Regions from separate parts of the Homo sapiens genome. Here regions 2 and 3 are each reported to be linked to region 1. Evidence: microRNA targets listed by miRTarBase, many of them from high-throughput screens and not tested one by one. Region 1 holds a microRNA gene; each other region holds the end of a gene's coding sequence.

The links. The annotated mature microRNA hsa-miR-335-5p reads UCAAGAGCAAUAACGAAAAAUGU and lies in region 1 at 2,749-2,771, shown strand. An mRNA with a match to its seed (bases 2 to 7 or 8) in the 3' UTR can be bound and repressed. Matches are read on the target gene's strand: a 7mer-m8 pairs with bases 2 to 8, a 7mer-A1 pairs with bases 2 to 7 and ends in A, and an 8mer does both.
Region 2: miRTarBase lists IFT81 as a target of hsa-miR-335-5p. The part of its 3' UTR that is shown has no 7-base or 8-base seed match.
Region 3: the mRNA of INPP5F is a reported target of hsa-miR-335-5p. The part of its 3' UTR that is shown has no 7-base or 8-base seed match.

Annotation. Positions count from the first base shown.
Region 1 is chr7:130,493,378-130,497,866 of GRCh38, forward strand. MIR335 (microRNA 335) reads left to right here and starts at 2,734; the gene lies at 2,734-2,827. MEST (mesoderm specific transcript) reads left to right here. Exons shown (of 12, transcript NM_002402.4): 2 at 1,991-2,145; 3 at 3,779-3,858.
Region 2 is chr12:110,217,388-110,221,631 of GRCh38, reverse strand. IFT81 (intraflagellar transport 81) reads right to left here. Exons shown (of 19, transcript NM_014055.4): 19 at 2,839-3,588. The coding sequence ends at 3,406. Among named protein-coding and RNA genes, the nearest start is that of ATP2A2, 62 kb to the left of the region's middle.
Region 3 is chr10:119,827,296-119,831,539 of GRCh38, reverse strand. It overlaps INPP5F (inositol polyphosphate-5-phosphatase F), which reads right to left. Exons shown (of 20, transcript NM_014937.4): 20 at 2,393-4,244. The coding sequence ends at 3,760. It overlaps MCMBP (minichromosome maintenance complex binding protein), which reads left to right. Exons shown (of 16, transcript NM_001256378.2): 16 at 1-2,100. The coding sequence ends at 66. Among named protein-coding and RNA genes, the nearest start is that of MCMBP, 43 kb to the left of the region's middle.

The DNA.
Region 1 (4,489 bases):
TCCGCTCATGGCTCATCAAATAGTTGGGATTTTGGCCAAAAAATGTTTGCTTAACCCATTTTGCCTACTGACGGCTAGGTTGCTTCACTTCTAAAAATCCTAAAAGTTCATGGGGGCATTTTTACTGAGGTAATAAGACAAAAAATGGCCCCCTGAGAGGTTGCCTCTTTGCTTTCTTGGAGTAAGAGGAGGAGGGTGTGGAGGGGGGTGTCCAGGAGTGGAGTATGTTGGTCGATAGCCTCGTTTTTTAACCCCCCACTTTCCCTGAGCAGCGGCGGGGAAGCCTCCCCATTTGCCGCTCTGGCCGCCCCTCCCGGGGCTCTCTGCTGAGTCACTGCAGAGATTCAGCTGCTGGAACCCCGGGGATGAATGCGATGAGAAGCACTGGGGGAAAGGAGTAATGAAATCTGCACATGAAAATGTATACATTGAAGTACAGGACAGATAGGGCTGGGCAAATGATCGTCAAAACCTAATGGTTTTTGTCATCTGACCTTTCAAGGAGATACTGGGATACAGCCTGCTATTGTTGGGTGAAAACTGTGATATAACCATCATGTTCTGGCACTTTTTTGAACCATTTCTAGTATTACCTTGAGAAGTAGGACCAAATGGTTCTATCCGTCTTATGGACAGGTACTTTGGAGAAAAAAAGAAATGACTGCCCTAATAATGCCTAAAAAATAGCCTGGGGAGCTGACATTGTTTAAGAAACATGGTTATTTTACCACTGTAAAACCACAGGCTTGTTTTTAGATTTTAGCAAAAAGTATCAGGGATATGGGGGGGAAAAGTATCTTGTAAGTTGAGGAAGTTAGCGAACGGGTAGGTAGATTACAGGCAATAGGGAAGAATGTGTGTACAGACGGAAAGCCATTTCCCCCAGGGCTTTAGCAATTAATTTATTTCAGCTCTATGACAACTCTAATTTTAGTTTTGGAGGGTATTATTTCCATTCTGGCTGTTTTGAGAGAACTTCCATTCTACTGACAATTCTTGATCTGTTGACCATCAGAAGTCATAGACTTGAAACAGAACGGTTTATAATTCCTGTTTGGCACTCCTTGTCAATGTGGATAAACTGACTTGTGCCTTTGAAGTCCTGGGCATGGGAGGGTTGGGTGTACCAACCAGTGCTCTTTTTCCAAAGACAAAATCAATTCTCACACGCTGGGTATGAGTTATGCCTTATCTGGGGGTGGGGGAGCATCTTAGGAAATTAAATGGAAACTTAAAGAGTCTGCTAAGAAAAGCAGAAATGTAATCTACCGCCTTGACCTCTCAAGAGATTAGATATTCAGGGTCATGACAAAGCTGCTTATGTTGGAATACACAGTGCAGCTATCTTACTTTCACAGACTGTTTACCCTGAGCAGTTTCTCAGCCCAAATCCAGAAAGGAGTACTAAATGGGGCTTCATTTAGGCAGGAGGGCTGAAAATCAGGAGTAGCTCTCTGCTTGAGGACATGTGATAAGTTACTACACACACACACTCTTTAAAACATGAGATATAGCACATATATATTTTTTGAACATTTTACTGGTTGGGGGTAGTGGGTAGATGGTAGAGCTTTTGGAGTAAATAAGAAAGAAGTTATTTTTTTCCTGGGAAGCCTTGATAAAAGTCAACGAAAGAGTGTCCAGCATTTAAGTCATGTCCCTTTTATTTATATAAAGTCCTCTTCAGCAGGTATTGGGAAGACCACAAGGGTAGGGGCTAAGGGGTTAAAGTCGGGGAGCAGAGGCAGAAGATTATATGTTGAAATAATGTATTTTTTTTCCTTAAGATTAGAATGATGAACAAATATGGTGAGTGCTATGGCAGACAGAGGTTTGATTATAGTCTCGGTCAGCTTTGTGCCTATGTGAAGGGCAATGTAATCATTGCATGGTAACAGCAATCTCCCACCCCATCTTACCAGGTTTTGGTTTGTAGATGAGTGGACAATGTTACCTGACTGCTTACAGTGGGTCTCTGCTTTTCCTACAGGATGAGGGAGTGGTGGGTCCAGGTGGGGCTGCTGGCCGTGCCCCTGCTTGCTGCGTACCTGCACATCCCACCCCCTCAGCTCTCCCCTGCCCTTCACTCATGGAAGTCTTCAGGCAAGTTTTTCACTTACAAGGGACTGCGTATCTTCTACCAAGGTAAGAAGTGGACTATTGGAAGTCCTGCGTGTATCGGTCACATAAGTCCCAGCTGAGGTATTTATTTTGTGGCTATTGGTCTCTTGTTGCTCCTTAATGATGGAGGAGAGTATCTCTCTCTCTTTCTGTGTAGTGTGCTTGCAGAGAAGCGCAGAAAACTGCTGGGAGAATGGGGGTAGGGACTGAGATTCCAACCTGCAGACCTTACCTTTTAGTATAAGTTTTCTTTGTAGCTTGATATGTATTCCAATATTAGTTTTTTTTTTTTTTTGAGCAACCTGTCAGGTAATATATAAAATATTAATAGATATAACCACCATTGGTTCTCTCTCCTTACCATCCCTGATTTCATTTTTTCTGTAGATTATTTGTAGTGTAACTGTGATTTAAGTCTTGATACCATTATATAAATTAATTTGCTAGTGATGATGATTATTATGACCACTACTTATCAAGTAATTACCATATGCCAGGCACTGAGTTATGTTTTCAGCCTTCATTGTTTAATCTTTACAACAGCATTTGGAGATAGGTGCCATTAACCTCATTTTATAGGTGAAGAAACTGAGAAACAGATTGGAAATGATTTGTTTTGAGCGGGGGTCAAGAGCAATAACGAAAAATGTTTGTCATAAACCGTTTTTCATTATTGCTCCTGACCTCCTCTCATTTGCTATATTCAATTAAGTAAGTATACAATTTTTATTATGTTGGCTTGGGTTACTTCCAGTTTTACTGTTTTAGAAAACTAATGTTGAAGTAAAAGCTTCATGTCCATACAGTTTATTTTTTCCTTACATTTTCAAACTATACTACTTGTATAAATGGAATGATTTTATTTGCACAGATTCTCAAGAACAAAACTCTTAGGCTAAAGTATATACAATTTTTAACTGCTTCTAAATTATTTTTGAAAACCTTATTACCAAATTTTCATGTCACTGGCAGTATATGAATATACCTGTTCTAATCCCATACTATTAGCAAGGTTAATATTGTCTAAATGTTTACCTAATTTAGATGATGCTGAATGCTTCCATATTGTCATATGCATTAAAAAAGTTCATGTTTATGTTGATTAAGCCCTTTTTATAGTTGACAGGATTTTGTAATAGTTTTATTATGTTTTTGATGTTAGATTGGGTCTCCTGCTGAATAAAAAGTGCTGAGCAAACAGCATAAGCTAAAGGTGTTCCTTGGGAATAGTTGCTGTATCTTAGAGAATTTCTGTGAGGCCATTCATGATAAAGTACAAAGAATTTGTAGTTTATGTGTTGTGATCATATGCTTTTAACTGAAAATTTACTTTTCACTGAAAAAATTTGCATATTACAGAACAAAAGGAGAAATGGGGAGATGCTGTTTAAAAACACCTAGGTGAAAGTAAACAAGGTGCCTTCAAGTATTTTCACATAGCATGATTTTTACAATGTTTTAATATACAGATTGAAAGGAGAAAAGGCCTGTTCTCACCTAACGCAGTTAAGCTTACATTTTACAAATAATTGTGTCATTTTAATGTCAATTTGGTCACAGTTGCTTGTTCTTTGTATCAGATTACTTAGATTTTAACATCTTCGAGGTTATTTTTATAGGGATTTGGCATAATTGATTGTACTTTCCTTCTTCCTAGACTCTGTGGGTGTGGTTGGAAGTCCAGAGATAGTTGTGCTTTTACACGGTTTTCCAACATCCAGCTACGACTGGTACAAGGTAATGAAGTCAGACTTCTACGTCCTACTATGTCTTAAAAAATCTCGGCCGGGCGCGGGGGCTCAAATCCTAGCACTTTGGGAGGCTGAGGTGGGAGGATGACCTGAGGTCAGGAGTTTGAGACCAGCCAGGCCAACATGGCAAAACCCCATCTCTACTAAAAGTATAAAAATTGGCCAGGCATGGTGGCACAAGCCTGTAATCCCAGCTACTTGGGAGGCTGAGGCAGGAGAATCGCTTGAACCCGGGAGGCAGAGGTTGCAGTGAGCTGAGATTGCACCACTGCACTTCAGCCTAGGTGACAGAGCGAGAGTCTGTCTCAAAAAAAAATTTTTTTTTAATAAAAATTTAAAAAACCTCAAGGATTTTGTTGTCAGCACCAGAAGGCTCTTGCACATTTGAATTGCTTTTAAAAAAACATTAAATGTTGAACTGTTCCTTATTTACTGAAGGGAATAAACAACTCCTTGGCACTCTGGAAGGGATCACTGCCAAGTTACCCTCCCTCAACAGGGATTAATTACCAGGAATAAAGCATTTTCCAAGAGGATCATCTGTGGGACCTGTGGTAGTTTCATGGCGTTTTCTCTTTATGGAAGTCTGTTAAGCCAAGATAGGGCTGAAGCTCCTG
Region 2 (4,244 bases), not on the chromosome of region 1:
CAGAGGACCAATTCAAATCACTTATGAACACTGAAATACTTCTGTTTTCCTTATAAAAATTTAAAAGATATTTCTCTCCATACTTTCCCGGTAAGTCCAGTTCTTCCTTATTCTGATGGACCCCATCTCTTCTTGCTACAGCTCCTAGAATTACCAATTATCTCTAGCTAGTGAGGCTCTTTGATTACCAATAAAAAACCTTTCAAACAAAAATTAAGAGTAGGACACACATGGGAACAAAGAGATCCATATTTTTTACAGGGTAGAAACAATTTTCTTCTTTAAAAAATATTTTTGGTGGTGGTACATGCCTGTAATCCCAGCTACTTGGGAGGCTGAGGCAGGAGAATGGCTTGAACCTGGGAGATGGAGGTTGCAGTGAGCTGAGATTGCGCCATTGCACTCCAGCTTGGGCAACAAGAGCGAAACTCCATCTCAAACAAAAAAAAAAAAGTTTTGGGCCAAGTATGGTAGCTTATGCCTAATCCTAGCACTTTGGGAGGCCAAGGTGGGAGGATCACTTGAAGCCACAAGTTCAAGACTAGCCTGGGCAACAAAAGGAGACCCCATCTAATATGGTTTGGATGTTTGTTCCCTCCAAATCTCATGTTGAAATGTAATCTCCAGTGTTGGAGGTGAGGCCTGGTGGGAGGTGTCTAGATCATGGAGGTGGATCCTCGTGAATAACTTAATGTCATCCCCGCGGTGATTAGTGATTTCTAGCTCTGAGTTCACACAAGATCTGGTTCTTTAACAGTGAGTGACAACTGCCCCTGACCTCTCGCTCCTGCTCTTTCCATATGATGTGCTGGTTCCCCTTTCACCATGAAGCTTTCACCTGAGGCCCTGGCCAAGAGGAGATGCCATCACCATGCTTCCTGTACAGCCTGCATAACCATGAGCCAATTAAACCTCTTTTCTTTATAAATTAGCCAGCCTCAGGTATTTGTTTATACTGACACAAAAACAGCTTACATGGCATCTCTACCAAAAAAAAAAAAAAAAATTAGCCAGGCATGGTGGCATGTGCCTATAGTCCCAGCTAACTTGACCCCAGAAGTTTGAGGCTGCATTGAGCTATGATTATATCACTGCCTCCCAGCCTGGGCAACAGAGAAAGATCCCATCTCTAAAAAAAAAAACAACAAAAAATTTTTTTAAAGACAGCTGAAAAGAACTAGCCTAAGATGGACATGCTAATAATTCGAAATTTGAGTTTTCAAATCTAAAGGCAAGATATTTTGAAAAAGTACTGAAATTGAAATGAAGTAAAGCATGGCACATGAATTTGGTATCTTTCTAAGGGAAACCAAAGAAATCTTCAAGTACCTTGTCCAAATGAAGCAGAGATTGGAAGCACTTTGAACTCTTGAATTTCACTTTGAGTCTTGTGCTACATTTAATATGTGATATCTATATTCTATGAAAATTTTTTTATATTTAAAATATCAGGCTGGGCGTGGTGGCTCATGCCTGTAACTGTAATCCCAGCACTTTAGGAGGCTGAGGCGGGTGGATCACTTGAGCTTAGGAGTTCGAGACCAGCCTGGCCAACATGGTGAAACCCCATCTCTACTAAAAATATAAAAACTAGCCAGGTGTGGTGGTGCATGCCTGTAATTCCAGCTATTCGCAAAGCTGAGGCAGGAGAATTGCTTGAATCTGGGAGGCAGAGGTTGCAGTGAGCTGAGATTGCACCACTATACTCCAGCCTGGGCAACAGAGCAAGAGACTGTCTCAAAGAAAAAATAAAATGAAATAAAATAACGGTTCCCACAACTATCAGATTATTGTTACATTATTATTATTATTTTTTGAGACAGAGTCTTGCTCTATTGCCCAGGCTGGAGTACAGTGGCGTGATCTTCGCTCACTGCAAACTCCACATCCCAGGTTCAAGTGATTCTCTAGCCTCAGCCTTCCAAGTAGCTGGGACCACAGGTGTGCCACCACACCCGGCTAATTTTTGTATTTTTTGTAGAGACAGGGTTTTGTCATGTTGCCCAGGCTGGTCTCGAACCCCTGACCTCAAATGATCTGCTTGCCTCAGCCTCCCAAAGTAGTGGAATTACAGGCATGAGCCACTGTGCCCAGGTTGGTTATTATATTATTAAATCTGTAATAGGCCAGGCATGAGTGGCTCATGCTTGTAATCCCAACACTTTGGGAGGCTGAGGCAGGCAGATCACCTGATGTTGGTTGGGAGTTCAAGACCAGTCTGGTCAACATGGTGAAACCCTGTTGCTACTAAAAATACAAAAATTGGCCAGGTGTGATGGCGGGCGCCTGTCATCTCAGCTACTTGGGAGGTGGAGGCAGGAGGATTGCTTGAATCCCGGAAGCAGAGGTTGCAGTGAGCTGAGATCACACCACTGCACTCCAGCCTGGGCAACAGAGTGAGACTCCACCTCAAAAAAAAGAAAAAAAAGTCTGTAATAGATTTTTGGTGAAAATAAGTAATAATGTGGCCAGGCGTGTAGGCTCATGCCTGTAATCCCAGCACTTTGGGAGGCCGAGGCAGGCAGATCACGAGGTCAGGAGATCGAGACCATCCTGGCTAACACGGTGAAACCCTGTCTCTACTAAAAATACAAAAAGTTAGCCGGGCATGGTGGCAGGTGCCTGTAGTCCCAGCTACTCAGGAAGCTGAGGCAGGAGTATGGCATGAACCTGGGAGGTGGAGCTTGTAGTGAGCCGAGATCATGACACTGCACTCCAGCCTAGGCAAAAGAGCGAGACTCCGTCTCAAAAAAGAAAAGAAAAGAAGTAATAATCCTTCAATTTAATATTAGATGTTAATACTTTAAAAAGAATAAATTTTGACACAAGACAACTATACATTTTTTAAATAGATATGAAATACGTACCAAGTTTATTTGCCTTTAAATGATACAAACAGAAAAGACATGTTAGTCAAAATATTAAATTTTCTTGCATTTTACAGAAGAAAAATAAACTGAAGTAAAACTGTAGGAACTGCTGAACGTCAGATAAATGTTTCTTCAGAACAAGAGATATTAGTTCCTAAAAGATTCTTCTAAAGTTTTTTTAAAAGAGATTAAGAAAAACAGTAAGCCACTGGGTTATTACATTCTAAAAAAAAACTACATGTTTCTTAATGGACATATGTTTACATTTACAGATAGTAAACTTAGTTTCCTGTCTCATAAAACTCAGAAGACGCCAGTGATGTCTAAACTATGGAAAAGAATAAAAGCCTCTTTTTCATATGAAAAAACATTCAAACTAAATCTACCTTAACATTATTTTCTATGAAAACTTAATAAAGAATGGCTCTTCTGAAAACAAAATGCTATACAAATCAGTTTCAAAAAAGAAATACATTATGAGATTAGGCTTATAGCTAGTGGTATCAAGTAAAACCCCAAACGATGACACAAGAATTCACAGTATTAGCCGGTCCTCCCCACCCTCCTGAATTACCTGACCAATGGAAGTTTGGCTTTGTTGTTTCAGAAAGCACTGTTTCTTACATTCCATTAATTGTTCCAAATCACGCCACATTTTTGCTTGTTTCATATTTGGACCATGACTTTCTCGTATAACTTTTTGTTTTTCCCGAAGTTTCTATCATTAAAAAAAAACAAGAATAATTAAATCTCAGTTACAGGGGTTTATTTCTATTGCTATAGTCGGAGGAATATGGTATGTTTTCTACAGTAGATAAAAAATAGTTAGCTAAACCACATACTCTATAATGTACCAAAACTAAGATTATAAAAGTTAACTAAGGCCAGACGAGGTGGCTCATGTCTGTAAACCTAGCACTTTGGGAGGCTGAGGTGGGCAGATCATGAGGTCAGGAGATCAAGAGCTCTACTAAATCCAACACTAAGTCAAACTGTTTGCCTTTCTAGTTCTCCAAAAAAATACAAAAAAAAATTAGCCAGGCATGGGGGCACGCGCCTGTAGTCCCAGCTACTCGGGAGGCTGAGGCAGGAGAATCGCTTGAACCTGGGAGGCGGAGTTTGCAGTGAGCCGAGATCACGCCACTACACTCCAGCTTGGCAACAGAGCAAGACTCTGTCTCAAAGAAAATACAAAAAACAAAAACAAACAAACAAAAAAAACTACACAAAACTATAAAAGGAAGTGAGAGAAAAAGATAGTTAGGAAAGTGGAACAGTATCATGGTGTGAAAAGAAGAATGTAGAGTTTGGAAGTCAGAAGACTTCGGTTTTAATCTGGTTTTGTCTCCTCTAGTGGTAAGCAAGGCACTTAAT
Region 3 (4,244 bases), not on the chromosome of region 1:
CAGCTAGAGTCTTTAAGAAGAACGAGGCTTCAGCAGCAAAAATGTGTGAATGGAAATGAACTTTAAAGATGTAATACCTATGAAGAGTAATGGGCAAACTGTAGCCACATAATTGTAAAATTCAGATATTCATTTATACCACATTGTTTTATAGGTAATTTCTATCACAAACCAGTGACATTTCCTGAAATCAAGCCTGGTAACACCTGATGTTTATATGATATTCAGTAAGGACTTTTACCTTACTGATTTCATGGAGCTTTTGAAGTTTGTTTTATAATAATTATATAAATTAGTAATGATGTAAAAAAAGTATTTGATATTAAAAGTTTAATATTGATAATGTTGCTGATTGTACCATTTCCTTAGCTTCAGCTGAGTCATAGGCCAGACTGTTGAAATGCTGAAATGAAGAAGGTTGTTGCAGTTTCAAAGTCAGAGGAATCGTGCTTCGGATTTCTTATGTTTTCTAGTTCTCTGTTTTTCCAGTTCACAGTGGGTTGGGGTGCATTCAGTAGTCCATCTTTGGGGAACGGAGGCGTACTTGCCATTGATTCACATGACTACATGAAATTCTGTACTGTCATTTCCCAGATGTTTGGCCACAGAAACTTTTTCCCACTTAACATTTGTTAACAGCCTGCAAAACTAAACTTGTACATGGCAGTGGTTCCCAGACTTTTGTATTTTATGGACCGGTAGTAATATTTCCAAAAATCTGGGGTACTATAAGGTTGCCAATTTACCTTGCCAAGTAATCCGAATAAATCACTGTATTATCACCATTTTTTTCATAAAAGGAAAGGACAATCTATCTCTGAATAAGAGGAGTCCTTTAAACGGAATGAATGTGGCTTTTGGGGGCAAAAGAAACCAAGACACTACATTGTCTTTATTTTCTCCTATCCCAGTGCATTTGAGAACCATGCATAAGGGAATGCTGTGCTACAAAGCTGTGCCCAAATATGAAAACAAAATAGGAAACTTAAAAAGCAATACCCCCTTTAGAAAGTTTTTATTTTCTTAAATGTCATTGAGTTGCTTTGATTCTATTGGATTTTTGGCATTTTTTATGGGATCATCAGTTGGTTCCAAGTATGTTAGATCAGCTAACATCTGCTACTCCAGTAACAGCCTCGTACAACTGCAGGTAGGTTTTCTCCAGACCAATTAGTTTTAATAGAGCAAACTAACAACAGACTGTAGTAGCATGGTTATGGCAACCAGAATCTTCAGAAAGGTTAGGACATTACTTTTTAAGCTGTCAGTGGTATCAAATAACTTACCTAGTTGGAGGCAGATAAAGGATCCCTTACGTTTTTTCCTATAAGGCCTAAATTGAAATTGTTAACCAAGGAAACAGGGTCAGCCTTGAAAAATCAAGGAATTCATTGTACCTAATAACTGAAGTAAAAATAACTAGTTGTTCAACTTTTCCTAAACTCAAATCTATTTTTATAAACAAATGTAAATAATGTTTATATTAGAGTTGAACTGGTTTTCATTTTTATAACTGGTAGACTAGACCTTCCTTAAACTTTTAGAAATAAAATGAAGGCTTCACTGGATTTGTGAGGATAAAATACATTTTCTTTAATTGTCCTAGAGCAAAGTACATTAGTCACCATGTGTTTTTTGTGCCAATGTAAATTGTAATTTACCAAAGAAAAATACATACATTGCTTGGTCTTGCAGAAAAGTTCCCTTGAAAGAACCTTTCCAATAAATAAAACGTCCCAAATTAGCAGTACCTTGGGCTGTTTTTCATGAGTAAGAAGATTCACCATCCCATGTGATCTGTGTGGAAAAAGACCATGTCCTCTTGGTGGAAGACATGAGAGAGCTGAACTGAAGTGGAGGAGGTGGTGCAAGAGGGACCTTCCTGCTCAAGGCCCGCCCAGGCAGCGGAATGGAGTGCAGTGCTTGGCTGCAGAAACCCTTTGTCCCTCACCTATATATACACGGACAGTCAAGTTTGTTGCTCTAACGTAAGGCACAGCGTTAATCCTGTATGGCCAGGAAACTGAGTAGACTCCTGTGTAACCCTGTTTGGAACTTTGCCTTCTTAAAATGATTTTTCAAAGATCTCTTTCGAACTAATTTCTGTAGAGTTTAAACGTGTATTTTATCACCTAATGTTGGGTTGTATTTTCTCCCATGTTGGGAACCCTTAATATTTTCAGGACCCGGAAGAAAAGTTGGTAGAAGCAAGCATTCAGTTTTGAATGTTTGGATTTAAAGTATAGTTTCTGATCCATTTCCCTTTTTACATCATGAGTATATTTCAAAGGAGTAACATACTGGCAACAGCTAGACCAAGTGTTCAGTTATAGCAAATCTGCCGTTTACAAATTCTTTAATCTGTTATGCAAGGAATTCTCATACCCATTTGTCACTTTAAATTACAATGGTACTTTATTTTAATAATCACAAGATTTAACACGTAAAAAAAAAAGATAGCACTAATAAATAACAAAAGTGGAATGCTTATCAAAGTAACGACATAATGTTCAGTTGAGAATCAGTCACTTCAACAGAGTAAAGCTCTAAAGACACCAGACGAACCAATACTTGTTGGAATATGCCATACAACTTTCTTACTGTGGGGATTACAGGGGCAGCCCTGGTTCTGTGTGGTCAGAGTTATAGTCAGACAGATTCAGCACAATTGTGTTTCAGACTAAATTGTTTTTGAGACACGGTCTTGCTCTGTCCCCCAGGCTGGAGGTCAGTGGCACGATCACAGCTCACTGCAGCCTCAATCTCATGGGCTCAAGCAATCCTCCTGCGTAGCTAGAAACACAGGCATGCACCACTATGCCCAGCTAATTTTTGTATTTTTTTGTAGAGACAGATGTTTCCCAGGCTGGTCTCAAAACTCCTGGCCTCCCAAAGTGTTGGGATTATAGGTGTGAGCCACTGCACTAGGCCCAGACTAAATTTTGAAGTTGTGGATCATCTACATAAGATGTCGAGGATGCCCCTCCTGGAATAAATTAAAACCTGACTGACTTCTAGAATTTCCAGTAGCCAATATGGGTGTTCTTACATTCCTGAAAACAGCAAAATGAAACCTAATAGGTGCTGGTATTCACCTCTGATGTATCAGGTTTACTGTGTGACAAGTCTTAATGCTCCTAGGTTTACATTGTATAGGCAGCAGAGTATTTTTAATGTGTTCAAGTAGAATACGGGGAAAATTAGGATCAAATGAGAATTCATTTCTCTAGTGTCAATAACCCTCAACTCCTCAGGGAACAGTTAAGCCATCAAAACTAAAATAGCTTTATATTCAAATGCTTCAGTAACATGTTAAAGTCACTAAAAACTAAATGTGTAATTTACTTTGTAGAGGTAAGAACACACAGGAATGAACTGACAAACAGAACAAATTATGAAAAACGCTAATCCCCTAAGCATCTGCATGTCCAGCCCTTGTGTCTACTGTAGTCTACCCACCCCACTCCAAAAAAAGGTTCAGGTTATATCCCAAAGTGACCTGTTGCTGAATTACTTTCAAATAAGCAAAGTGCTCTGTAGTGTATAAGCTACTCAGGTCTACACATTCTAGAATGATGCACTTCTGTAGTCCTGGCTGTAAAATTTGGAAATCTACTCAGGTTCCGACTCCGTTTAAAACCCTTTCCAATGAACAGAATTTGTGATCCCTGGGTTCAGACAGTACAATTAAAATACCCCAAGAGGTGAAAATTTCATATTTTTAAATAAAAGCCATGGAAGGATTCTTATGGCTAAAAGCTAAATCTGAATTATCCGTGTCTGGCATTGTATAAACATCTTTTTAAGTTCATTTTGCTGGACTTGATTAATGATTTCAGGTTCTGGAGGACTCTTCTGAACTTTTGACACTGCAAAGTTTATCCCATGGGTTAATCCAGCTTGGGTAATACTAGCAACCTGGACCATGGAACTTCGAATCTTGGCAAAGGGAGAGACTGCTCTGCTGCTACTGCTCTCTGAAGGAGAAGGAGTTACATGAAGCCCTGTCTCAAGTTCAAGCATGCTGGAAGCGGAGGTGGGGGTTTTTTGAGATGCAACTGAATGCGCTGGCTCAACTGACAAAAACTGTGGGCCTGTTGCAGAAAGAGAGACATCTAATTGCGATGGCCGAGAAGGTGTCTGTTCTGTTGATTCTGATTGGGTTTCATTTGAAACTTGATTGGTCATTTGATTTCTTTCCTGACTAGCCTGCTGAGACACAGATCTGGTCTCTGATAGGTGGG